Linked DNA regions of Homo sapiens: regions 1 and 2 are each linked to region 3. The links come from fine-mapping of genetic effects on gene expression. A gene starts in region 3. Each other region holds a variant in brackets. All regions are shown on one strand. Distances are between the middles of the regions. Region 1 overlaps LINC02217 (long intergenic non-protein coding RNA 2217). Region 2 overlaps LINC02218 (long intergenic non-protein coding RNA 2218). Region 3 holds the start of LINC02218 (long intergenic non-protein coding RNA 2218).

The links. PIP is the estimated chance that this variant, and not a neighbour inherited with it, causes the effect. A credible set is the group of variants that fine-mapping cannot tell apart.
Region 1: its variant is the best candidate, but not a certain one, in a credible set for the expression of LINC02218 in whole blood (TOPMed, PIP 0.68).
Region 2: its variant is the best candidate, but not a certain one, in a credible set for the expression of LINC02218 in whole blood (TOPMed, PIP 0.76).

The regions. Positions count from the first base shown.
Region 1 is chr5:17,415,921-17,420,169 of GRCh38, forward strand. The region is part of intron 1 of LINC02217 (long intergenic non-protein coding RNA 2217); the gene reads left to right. Among named protein-coding and RNA genes, the nearest start is that of LINC02217, 14 kb to the left of the region's middle. RefSeq lists an enhancer at 1-621. The variant T/C (reference allele first, on the strand shown) is at 2,189.
Region 2 is chr5:17,473,417-17,477,626 of GRCh38, forward strand. It overlaps LINC02218 (long intergenic non-protein coding RNA 2218), which reads left to right. Exons shown (of 3, transcript NR_134270.1): 2 at 4,199-4,210. Among named protein-coding and RNA genes, the nearest start is that of H3Y2, 17 kb to the right of the region's middle. The variant G/A (reference allele first, on the strand shown) is at 2,508.
Region 3 is chr5:17,441,858-17,446,106 of GRCh38, forward strand. LINC02218 (long intergenic non-protein coding RNA 2218) reads left to right here and starts at 2,153. Exons shown (of 3, transcript NR_134270.1): 1 at 2,153-2,377.

The DNA of each region.
Region 1 (4,249 bases), 26 kb before region 3:
AACTAACCTTGGGAGAAACTTAGGTTTTTTTTTTTTTTTTTTTGAGACGGAGTCTCGCTCCATCGCCCAGGCTGGAGTGCGGTGGTGCGATCTCGGCTCACTGCAAGCTCCGCCTCCCGGGTTCACACCATTCTCCTGCCTCAGCCTCCCGAGTAGCTGGGGCTATGGGCACCCGCCACCACGCCTGGCTAATTTTTTGTATTTTTAATAGAGACCGGGTTTCACCATGTTAGCCAGGATGGTCTCGATCTCCTGGCCTCATGATCCGCCTGCCTCGGCCTCCCAAAGCGCTGGGATTACAGGTGTGAGCTACCACGCCAGGCCTTTTTTTAAAAAATTTAAGTTCTAGGTTACATGTGCACAACGTGCAGGTTTGTCGCACAGGTATACATGTGCCATGTTGGTTTGCTGTACCCATTAACTCGTCATTTACATTAGGTATTTCTTCTAATGCTATCCCTCCCCCAATCCCCCACCCTACGACAGGCCCCAGTATGTGATGTTCCCCACCCTGTGTCCAAGTGTTCTCATTGTTCAATTCCCATCTATGAGTGATAACATGCGGTGTTTGGTTTTCTGTCCTTGTGATAGTTTGCTCAGAATGATGGTTTCCAGCTTCATTTTTGTCCCTGTAAAGGACATGAACTCATCATTTTTTATGGCTGCATAGTATTCCACGGTGTATATGTGCCACATTTTCTTAATCCAGTCTATCATTGATGGACATTTGGGTTGGTTCCAAGTCTTTGCTATTGTGAATAGTGCTGCAATAAACATACATGTGCATGTGTCTTTATAGCAGCATGATTTATAATCCTTTGGGTATATACCCAGTAATGGGATCGCTGGGTCAAATGGTATTTCTAGTTCTAGATCCTTGAGGAATCGCCACACTGTCTTCCACAATGGTTGGACTAGTTTACAGTCCCACCAACAGTGTAAAAGTGTTCCTATTTCTCCACATCCTCTCTAGCATCTGTTGTTTCCTCACTTTTTAATGATCGCCATTCTAACTGGTGTGAAGTGGTATATCATTGCGGTTTTGATTTGCATTTCTCTGATGGCCAGTGATGATGAGCATTTTTTCATGTGTCTTTTGGCTACATAAATGTCTTCTTTTGAGAAGTGTCTATTCATATCCTTTGCCCACTTTTTGATGGGGTTGTTTGTTTTTTTCTTGTAAATTTGTTTAAGTTCTTTGTAGATTCTGCATATTAGCCCTTTGTCAGATGGGTAGATTGCAAAAATTTTTTCCCATTCTGTAGGTCACCTGTTCACTCTGATGGTAGTTTCTTTGGCTGTGCAGAAGCTCTTTAGTTTAATTAGATCCCATTTGTGTATTTTGGCTTTTGTTGCCATTGCTTTTGGTGTTTTAGTCATGAAGTCCTTGCACATGCCTATGTCCTGAATGGTACTGCCTAAGTTTTCTTCTAGGGTTTTTACGGTTTTAGGTCTAACATTTAAGTCTTTAATACATCTTGAATTAATTTTTGTATAAGGTGTAAGGAAGGGATCCAGTTTCAGCTTTCTACATATGGCTAGCCAGTTTTCCCAGCACCATTTACTAAATAGGGAATCCTTTCCCCATTTCTTGTTTTTGTCAGGTTTGTCAAAGATCAGATGGTTGTAGATGTGTGGTGTTATTTCTGAGGGCTCTGTTCTGTTCCATTGGTCTATGTCTCTATTTTGGTACCAGTACCATGCTGTTTTGGTTGCTGTAGTCTTGTAGTATAGTTTGAAGTCAGGTAGCATGATGCCTCCAGCTTTGTTCATTTTGCTTAGGATTGTCTTGGCAATGCGCTCTCTTTTTTGGTTCCATATGAACTTTAAAATAGTTTTTTTTCCAATTCTGTGAAGAAAGTAATTGGTAGCTTGATGGGGATGGCATTGAATCTATACATTATCCTGGGTAGTATGGACATTTTCATGATATTGATTCTTCCTATCCATGAGCATGGAATGTTCTTCCGTTTGTGTCCTCCTTTATTTCGTTGAACAGTGGTTTATAGTTCTCCTTGAAGAGGTCCTTCAGATCCCTTGTAAGTTGAATTCGTAGGTATTTTATGGGAGAAACTTAGTTTTTAGTTTAACTTTGAAACAAAGATGATAACAGCCCTTTCCCAAAACAAGCCTCCTTCTTGCCTGGGGGCTAGACTCACTATGTAGGACTAACAAATTAGCCACAAGA[T/C]TAGAAATTATGGTTTAGGAGTCATGCAGCTAAACATGCAGCCAAACAAATTCAGAGTGATTTGAGTAATCATAAAACTCTGGTCTCCTGTATAGCCGGCTCTGCAGGAATTCGACTCTTTCTCTATTGCAATTCCTGTCTGGATGAATAGACTCTGGGCAGTGGGCAAGGAGAACCTGCTGGGTGGTTACAGGAGTACGTAGCAACAATGTGTACCCTTTTCTTTACAACTCAAGACAATTTATCAATCCCACTTTACAAATTAGTTGAATACAGGACTCTCTTAACTGCTTATTCCAGTGGTTTTCAAAATGTGGTCTCTGCACATTTATACACTGTTGGTGGGAATGCAAATGAGTCCAGCCCCTGTGGAAAGCAGTTTGAAGATTTCTCAGAGAACTAAAAATAGAACTACCATTCTACCCAGCAATTTTATTGCTGGGTATATACCAAAATGAAAATAAATCGTTCTACCAAAAGACACCTAGACTCATATGTTTATTACAGCAGTATTCACACTAGCAAAGACATGGAATCAACCCAGGTGCCCATCAATGGTCGATTGGATAAAGAAAATGTAGTACATATACACCATGGAATACTATGCAGCCATAAACGATGAGATCATGACTTTGCCACAATATGGATACAGCTGGAAGCCATTATCCTAAGTGAATTAATTCAGAAACAACCAAATACCAAACGTTCTCACTAATAAGTGGGAGCTAAACATTGGGTACACATGGACACAAACACGGGAACAATCAACACTGGGGGGTCAGGCACAGTGGCTCACGCCTGTAATCCCAGCACTTTGGGAGCCCAAGGCAGGTGGATCACTTGGAGTTAGGTGATTGAGACCAGGCTGACCAACATGGTGAAACCCCATCTCTACTAAAAATATAAAAATTAGCAGGGAGAGGTGGCACGCATCTGTAGTTCCAGCTACTCGGGAGGCTGAGACAGGAGAATTGCTTGAACCCGGAAGGCAGAAGTTGTAGTGAGCCAAGATCACGCCACTGCACTCCAGCCTGGGCAACAGAGTGAGACTCCATCTCAAAAACAAACAAACAAACAGACAAACAAACAAACAAACAAATAAACACATAAACAAACACTGGGGATTCCAAAAGTGGGGAGGGTGCCAGTGGGGCAAGGGTCAGAAAACAACCTATTGCGTACTATGTTCACTACTTGTGTGACAGGATCATTAAAAGACCAAACCTCAGCATCATGCAATACACACATATGACAAACCTGCACATGTACTCCCTGACTCTAAAATAAAACAAAACAAAAAACAAAACCAAAGTCTTGTCCCTGGACCAGTAACATCAGCAATATCTGGAAGCTTGCTAGAAATGCGAATTCTCTGCTGCACTAAGACCTCCTGAATGGAAGACTTTGAGGCGATGCCCAGAAATCTGTATTTTAGCAGGGCTTCCAGATGAATCTATGTATGCTGAAGTTTTTACTATTTTGAGATTTTTGCTGATGGTTTTATAACAATATTGGTACTTTCAAATTCATATTATCAACACTCATATTTTCATATTCATATTTGTAAAATATTTCATCCTACACATGAGAAAACACACCTAAGATAAAGCGAGTGGCTTAAAATCACCCAGCCAGTGGGTGAGAAGCCAAAATCTTCCAGTCTGGGATGTTTTTAATTCCATTACATTGAAATGCAGAATTAATGTTTCCTTTACCTAGGCATTAAAGGAGAGAATAGGGTTAAGCTCACCCAGGGAAGGTCACCTGGCTGGCCAGAGGGGTGGCCCCCACCTTGGGAAATTTACTGTCGATAGCAGCCCCACAGTCTTAGAGATCTATATTGTCTGAAATCCAAAAGGAGAATCCAACCCTTTCCCAAACAGAGGGATATTAACCAGGCCTAGGTCCATCAGTGCCAGCCTCTCTCAGCAGCTCATCTCCACTCGATGCCCAGAAAGCCAATTGATCACGGGAATTCTGTTTTTTTCCTGCAAAAGGTGAGGCGAAAATGAGTGTATGTATGTGTGTGTGTGTGTGTGTGTGTGTGTGTGTGCATTTAGT
Region 2 (4,210 bases), 32 kb after region 3:
ACCATTCTAAAAAATCGAGGAGGAGGGACTCCTCCCCAACTCATTCTATGAGGCCAGCATGATGTTCATACCAAAAACTGGAAGAGACACAACAAAAAAAGAAAACTTCAGGCCAATATCCTTAATGAACACGGATGCAAAAATCCTCAATAAAATACTGGCAAATCAAATCCAGCAGCACATCAAAAAGCTTATCCACCACGATCAAGTAGGCTTCATCTCCAGGATGCAAGTCTGGTTCAACATATGCAAATTAATACATGTGATTCATCACATAAACAGAACTAAAGACAAAAACCACATGATTATGTCAATAGATGTAGAAAAGGATTTTGATAAAATTCAACACTCCTTCATGTTAAAAACTCTCAGTAAACTAGGTAGTGAAAGAACATACCTCAAAATAATGAGTTATCTGTGACAGACCAACAGCCAACATTATACTGAATGGGCAAAAGCTGGAAGCATTCCCCTGGAAAACCAGCACAAGACTAGGATGCCCTCTCTCACCACTCCTATTCAATGTAAATTTGGAAGTCCTAGTCAGAGCAATCAGGAAAGAGAAAGAAATAAAGGGCATCCAAGAAGGAAGAGAGGATGTCAAAATATCTCTGTTTGTAGATGACATGATTCCATATCTAGAAAACCTCATAGTCCTGGCCCAAAAGCTCCTCCAGCTGATAAATAAGTTCAGCAAAGTCTCAGGATACAAAAATCAATGTACAAAAATCCTGAGCTTTCCTATATACCAACAACAGCCAAATCTCGAGCCAAATCAGAAAGACAATCCCATTCACAATTACCACAAAAAGAATAAAATACACAGGAGTATAGCTAACCAGGGAGGTGAAAGAATTGGCAAAATATTGTTCAATTACAAATTATAAAGAGAATTACAAAACACTGCTCAAAGAAATCAGAGAAGACACAAACAAATGGAAAAACATCCCATGCTCATGGATAAAAAGAATCAATATCATTAAAATGGCTATACTCTCCAAAGCAATTTACAGATTCAGTGCTATCTGTATCAAACTACCAAAGACATTCTTCACAGAACTAGAAAAAACTATTTTAAAATTTATATGGAACCAAAAAGGAGCCTGAATAGCCAAGGCAGTCATAAGAAAAAAGAACAAAGCTGGAAGCATCATGTTACCCAGCTTCAAACTATACTACAAAGGCTACAGTAAGCAAAACAGCACGGTACTGGTATAAAAACAGGCATATAGACAAGTGGAACAGAATAGAGAGCCCAGAAATAAGGCTGCACATCTATGACCATCTGATCTTTGACAAAGCTGACAAAAACAAGAAATGGGGAAAAGACTCACTGTTAAATAAAAGGTGCTGAGATAACTGGCTAGCCATATGCAGAAGATTGAAGCTAGACCTTTTCCTTAGACCATATGCAAAAATCAACTCAAGATGGATTAAAGACTTAAATGTAAAACTCAAAACTATCAAAACCCTAGAAGACAACCTAGGCAATACTATCCTGGGCATAAGAACAGGCAAAGATTTCATGACAAAGACACCAAAAGCCATTGCAACTAAAAGCAAAAATTGACAAGTGAGATCTAATTAAACTTAAGAACTTCTGCACAGAAAAGGAAGCTATAAACAGAGTAAATAGCCAACCTACAGAATGGGAGAAAATACTTGCAAACTATGCATCTGACAAAGGTCTAGTATCCAGCATCTATAAGGAACTTAAACAAATTTACAGGAGAAAAACTAACAACCACATGAAAAAGTGGGCAAAGGACATGAACATACACTTCTCAAAAGAAGACCTACATGCAGCCAACAAGAATATGAATAGAAGTTCAATATCACTGATCATCAAAGAAATGCAAATCAAAACCACAATGAGGTACTATCCCACACTAGTCAGAATGGCTATTATGAAAAAGTAAAAAAATAACAGATGCTGGCAAGGTTGTGGAGAAAAAGGAACATGTGTACACTGTTGGTGGGAGTGTAAATTAGTTTAACCATTGTGGAAAGCAGTATGGTGATTCCTCAAAGAGCTGAAAGCAGAACTACCATTTGACCCAGCAATCCTATTACTGCTTATATACCCAGAGAAATAAAAATAATTCTACCATAAAGATACATGCACACAAATGTTCATTGCAGCACTATTCACAATAGCAAAGACAGGAAATAACCTAAATGCCCATCAATGACAGATTAAATAAAGAAAATATGGTATATATACACCATGGAATTCTATGCAGCCATAAAAAATGAGATCATGTCTTTTGAGAGAACATGGGTGGAGCTGGAGTCCATTATCCTTAGCAAACTAAAATAAGAACAGGAAACCAACTACTGCATGTTGTCACTTATACGTGGGAGCTAAATGATGAGAACTTGTGAACACAAAGAAGGAAACAATGGCCTGGCATGGTGGTTCACACCTGTAATCCCAGCACTTTGGGAGGCCAAGACGGGTGAATCACTTGAGGTCAGGAGTTTGAGACCAGCTTGGCCGACATGGT[G/A]TGAAACCCCATCTCTACTAAAAATACAACAAGTAGCCAGGCTGGTGGTGCATGCCTGTAATCCCAGCTATTCAGGAGACTGAGGTGCAAGAATCACTTGAACCTGGGAGGTGGTTGCAGTGAGCCAAGATCGTGTCACTGCACTCTAGCCTGGGTGACAGAGTAAAACTGTGTCTTGTAAAAAAGAGAAACCAAGAAACAGAGAAGGAAACAACAGACACTGGGGCCTACCTGTGGGTGGAGGGTGGGAGGAGGAAGAGGAGCAGAAAAGATAACTATTGGGTACTGGGCTTAGTACCCAGGTAATGAAATACTATGTACCACAAACCCCCATGACACGTTTTTACCTGTTTAACAAACCTTCACTTGTACCCCAAACCTAAGATAAAGGTTAAAAAAAATTCACTGGTCTAAATGCTTCCTTCAGTGCACCCATGAGGTCCCTCCATAGTATAAAATACACACGTATTGGCCGGACGCAGTGGGTCACACCTGTAATCCCAGCACTTTGGGAGGCCAAGGCAGGCAGATTGCCTGAGCTCAGGAGTTCCCGACCAGCCTGGGCACACAAACTCTGTCTCTACTAAAATGCAAAAAATTAGCCAGGCATGGCAGCATGTGCCTGTAGTCCCAGCTACTCAGGAGGTTGAGGCAGGAGAATTGCTTGAACCTGGGAGGTGGAGGTTGCAGTGAGTTGAGATCGCGCCCTTGCACTCCAGACTGGGTGACAGAGCAAGACCCTGTCTCAAAAAAAAAAAAAAAAAAGCTACATGTATTACATACACAATCACATATTGTATGACAGAGTGAGACTCTGTCTCAAAAAAAAAAAAAGCCACATGTATTAACATACACAATCATATATTGTATGACAGAGCAAGACTCTGTCTCAAAAAAAAAGCCACATGTACTACATACACAATCATATATTGTATAAGATAATTTATATACAATTTTATAAAATATTAAATATATTACATAAAATAGTATTGTATACTAATATATATGAAATAGTAGTATATACATGTAATATATAATATTTGGCAGTATTTAAATGCTATGGGATAAAGACAATAAGGAGAAAATGGCTAAAAGATAGATATACATGTATATGTACATAAATTTCAATATGTTAGCATATACATATTAATATGTTTGATGTTATTACTGTGTACTAGTATCTATCTATATTTAGCTTGTTAATAAATATGCTTGCTCAAGACTAGATTAGAGCCTTTGTTAATTATGTTGCTAAGGCGCTCTTGCTTTCCTCTGATACCCATCACCAGGCCGAGCTTCAGTTTATTTCCAATCACTGTCTCTAATTATCTGGGAGATGTACTGTGGCTCGTTGCCTCTCATTCTGCTTTGAGAGGTTCTGTCTTCACCAGCTGCCAGGGTTTTCTGTCCCTGGGTCTCTGCCACACTGAGGTATAGGGGAAGCTTGTTCCACTCCCCACTTTTTTTTTTTTTCTTTGCTGGAAGAATCATCTCTGAAGGTTTTTCCCTGACAATACACTCTCCTTGAACTGAATATGTCTAAACACAGTTGGTTTCACGGACATTTGATCTGTGCAGTTGCACAGGGTCCATTCTCAGAAGAGCCTGGTACTTACTTGACTTAATTCTCTGCTGTTTTGATATTCTGGATAATTTTTGAACAAGAAGCCCTACATTTTTATTTTTCACAGGTTCCTGCCAAT
Region 3 (4,249 bases):
TGTGTCCGATCGCTCTCTGGTTTTTCTAATATCATGATCCCAACTCTGTTCTTTATGTAAATTTCCCTGATCACATGGTTGTATCTTGGCATTTCAAAATCCTTGACAGACTTTGTTTTGTTTGAATTTTACAATGAACTTACATGACTAGGCACGGTCCCCAGTTCAGTTTTATAGACAAGGATTCTGTAGGTCAAGAAGTGAAACACAACCAATAACAGCAGGTGACAGGATTTAAACCTGGGTCACTTTACTTATTTTTTTCTACTCTATCATTATGTGAATCTATCCTACCTCTGCAATGACAGATGGCCCTAGAGCAAGAACACTTCCTTACATCTGGTATACAGTCAAAAAGTAAAAATTCCACACAAATAAATATGGAAAGAATTTTTACCTGCTCCTATAGCTTCCTTTCAGGGACCTGGCACCCACAAATGTTGGGTAACAGAAAGAGGACTTATGTAACTTAACTCAAAGCAGAAAAGTTACAGAGACTGTCTTAGCATAATAGAGCATGGAGTGGTCATGCTTGGATGTGCAAACTGTCTGATAGTCTTGCACATGGCTTGACCCCGAATTACACTAGTGGGGCAAGTTGCCTGGGGCAAAGCAAACTTATTGGACCCAAAGCTCTCATTTGAGAATTTTGTTGACTAAAAGTTATAAAATATCAGCAATTTCATATGGTTCAGCCTAATATTTTATCACTCTTCCTTTTTCTATTCTAAAACAATAATTTTTAATAACGTAAGCTATACACATACATGCTTTAAACATACAACACCCTGACTATCATATAGTGGATATTTCAAGAAGTAAATGTTCAGCATGTCTTCACCCCCACTTGAAGACATAATGTATGTATTAGGCTGTTCTGGCATTGCTATAAAGAAATACCTGAGACTGTGTAATTTATAAGAAAGGAGCTTTAATTGGCTCACGGTTCTGCAGGCTGTACAGGAAACATATTGGGTCTACTTCTGTGGAGGCTTCAGGGAACTTTGACTCATGGTGGAAGGTGAAATGAGAGCAGGCACCTCATGTGACTGAAGCAGGAGCAAGAAAGAGAGAGCGAGCAAGGTGCCACACACTCTTAAACAACCAGAACTCTCTCTTGAGAATTCACTCACTGTCTTGCCGTCAGCACCAAAGGGATGGTCCTAAACCATTCATGAGAAATCCTCCTCCATGATCCAATCACCTCTCACCAGGCCCTACCCCCAACACTGGGATTACAATTCAACGTGAGATTTGGGCCTGGACACAGATCCAAACCCTATCAATATATTAGCCAGATACTTGCAGCTGTATGAAGAATACCCTGGTTACCCAGCTACAAATGCAGATGTTATTGATAAGGGAGGGGGGCAGGGAAGTGCTGGGAGGAGAAAGCAGGTCTCTGGCGAGGGCTTCACCCCGGTGCCTGTGCCCACAGACCTAGGTAAGGGCAGGCACTCCTGCCTTTGCGCCCAAATGTTGCATTTCCCAAGACCACCCTGGCCCACCACGCCCCCATCCTGTGCCTATAAAAACCCCGAAACACTAGTGGGCACTCACACAAGCGGCTGGACGTCCAGAGGACGTCAACAAGAGCACGCCGACAGGCAGACCCTGGCAGGCCATCGACTGGCGGAAGGACATGGAGTTTGGCTGCGTGGTTGGAGGAGAGCCAGGCCGCTAGGTGGCCTGACTCCAGGAAACTACACCTTCCCACTCCATCTCCCTTCTGTCTCCCCTGTCTGCTCACAGCTACTTCCTCTCAATAAAACCTTGAACTCATTCTCCAAGCCCACGTGTGATCTGATTCTTCCGGTACACCAAGGCAAGGACCCTGGGATACAGAAAGTCCTCTGTCCTTGAGATAAGCCAGGGGGTCTAATTGAGCTGACTAACACAAGTCGCCTACAGATGGCAAAACTAAAAGAGCACCCTGTAACACACGTGTGCCCACTGGGGCTTCAGCTGTAAACATTCACCCCTAGACACTGCTCTTGGGTTGGAGCCCCACAACCCAGCCGTCCGCATGCTCCCCTAGAGGTTTGAGCAGTGGGGCACGGAAGAAGCGAGCCACTCCTCCTGTTGCACACCCTGCGGGTGGCGCAAGGGAACGTTTCCTGTTTCATCATCAGGGATATTGTATCGGTGTCTTAAATAACACTAGCATTTTGACATATTTGGAGCTGCTACTGGGCCAGCTCTGTTTCCAGGCCTGCCTTTCAATCTTTTCCTTGCTTCTGGCATGAGTTACCATCTCTTTTAAGAAATTGGTTATGCATTTGAAAATACACGTAGCTATACATACTTTAAACATATCATTTAGCAAGGATGCTCCTTATCGGACCGTTGCTGGGAACAGAGAACACGACAGTTCCAGGTGAGCGAAATAGTGTGATCTCATACATGATGAAAGCTAAGCAGGCAACAGCTTTTCCGTAAGCAAGCATTTCAAAATGTATTTGTAGAAAGGCAGTAAAAGAATAAGATGCAAATCAAGCTATTTTTAAACCATCGTTTTCAGGGCCAAGGAAGAAATTATGAGAATGAATTTTTTAAAAAAAGATTATAAGGTCTTTAGTGGTGTTTTTAGTTGAAGTAATTTAGAGATGATTAGGTATTGCTATTTTTTATTCAATTCTTTACAACAAAAGCTTACAGAAATAGAAAGCTTTGCCATTTCTTTTCCCCACAACTTTAAAAAGTAAAGAGTGAGTGTTGGGTCACAATAATCTTTCTTTTTTAGTCTCCTTTTTGTGCAAATTCATCCACCATCAAATTACATTGTACTCCTTCCTCCTCTGTGACTACCTGTGGAAGAATGTTTATATAAATAAACCCAAAGGCCTGTCTTTTTGTCTGTTGCTCTGAGTAAGTGGTGCAAAATAGATGCCTTAGTCTGGTGATTTGATTTAATACAAATGGACCTTGTTAGAACACTTCTTTACACCTGAGATATTGGGAGATTTACTTGTAACCTTCCTTGCTACGTGAACAGCAGTAGTATTTGCTGTTTCTAAGATGTGTTGTAGTTTGAAAGATTTTGTTTGTATCATGCCAAAGTGACTGCATTAAGAAGTTCCTAGTTGACTGATTAAAACAAAACAAAACAAAACTCCTTTAATCATTCAGCTGTTTGACCTATGCTAGTGTATAGGTGCTATACACAATTATATATTTTGATGCTTTCTGTTTTATTATGTGGCAGTGTGTAGTCCCAGTATTTATGCTAATTATATCGTTCTTTGGAATCCAGTTTTTCTTTTTGTAAATTTGGATTAAAGTCTATCATGGCTCCTTTCAAAGAGAGCACTAAATGTAAATGGAGGGTTCTTTGATACCATTAGAGAGATGGGACTGAGATCTCAAAGAAATAGGCTGCACTGGCTCTGGGGTGAATGGGTCCTATGACTTGTAGGGCTTCAGAGTAGGACACACAACTCTGGGGCTAAAGCTCAGGACATTGGCCATGCAGTTGAACATTTCTGCCCGTTCTTTCCTGGTCCTGCCCTGTGCAATTTCCAGCTTCTGTAAATACATATTGAAGGTATGTATACATAGCAAAGGTGTGCCAAAGTGTACAGTTGCTCAGATTATTTGCACACCTTGGTTTGGCCCTGGCCAGTTGAAGGAGTCATGAGGAAATACCTTGCTGCGATGACTTCTGTCATTCATTTCTCTGTGTATATTGGTACTAATTGATTTTTTTTGGCAGAGTTTAAAGTACTTTTGAACTTTTCCCCTTTCTTCTCTCCTCTGCTTCTTTTTCCAGACTGTTTCCAAGATTGGATGAAGAGATTCAATTGACAATGCTGTGAAGAGAGGGATTTGGAGCTTGTTGGGGGAGGTAGTGTTGACTTCCTTGTGCAATCTAGGATTGAGTGGGGGATGCAGTTGGAAGGCAAGAGAAGTAAGACTCCTCCATCTTCCTGGTCCAGAGAAATTATGCTGGATCCCCCTACCCTTAATGAGAAAGGAGGTGTTTGTGTTTCCAGCATCTATGAGATCTGATTGCTAATGTAGCTACCTTTAAAGAATTCTGCTATTTACAATAAAAGTGAGATCTCCCTCCTCCATCCTGTGTTACACAGCCTGGGATTGCACCGTTGTTCCTGGCACCTTTGCATTGCAGGAGCCTGCCTTTGACTTTCTTTCCTCTCCACACATCTTCTATTCCTGCTGCTTCTCTTTTCAGAAAGTGCTGAGCTTCTAGGCTAGTGTCCCTCTCAACGGATGAATATTCAGCAGAGAA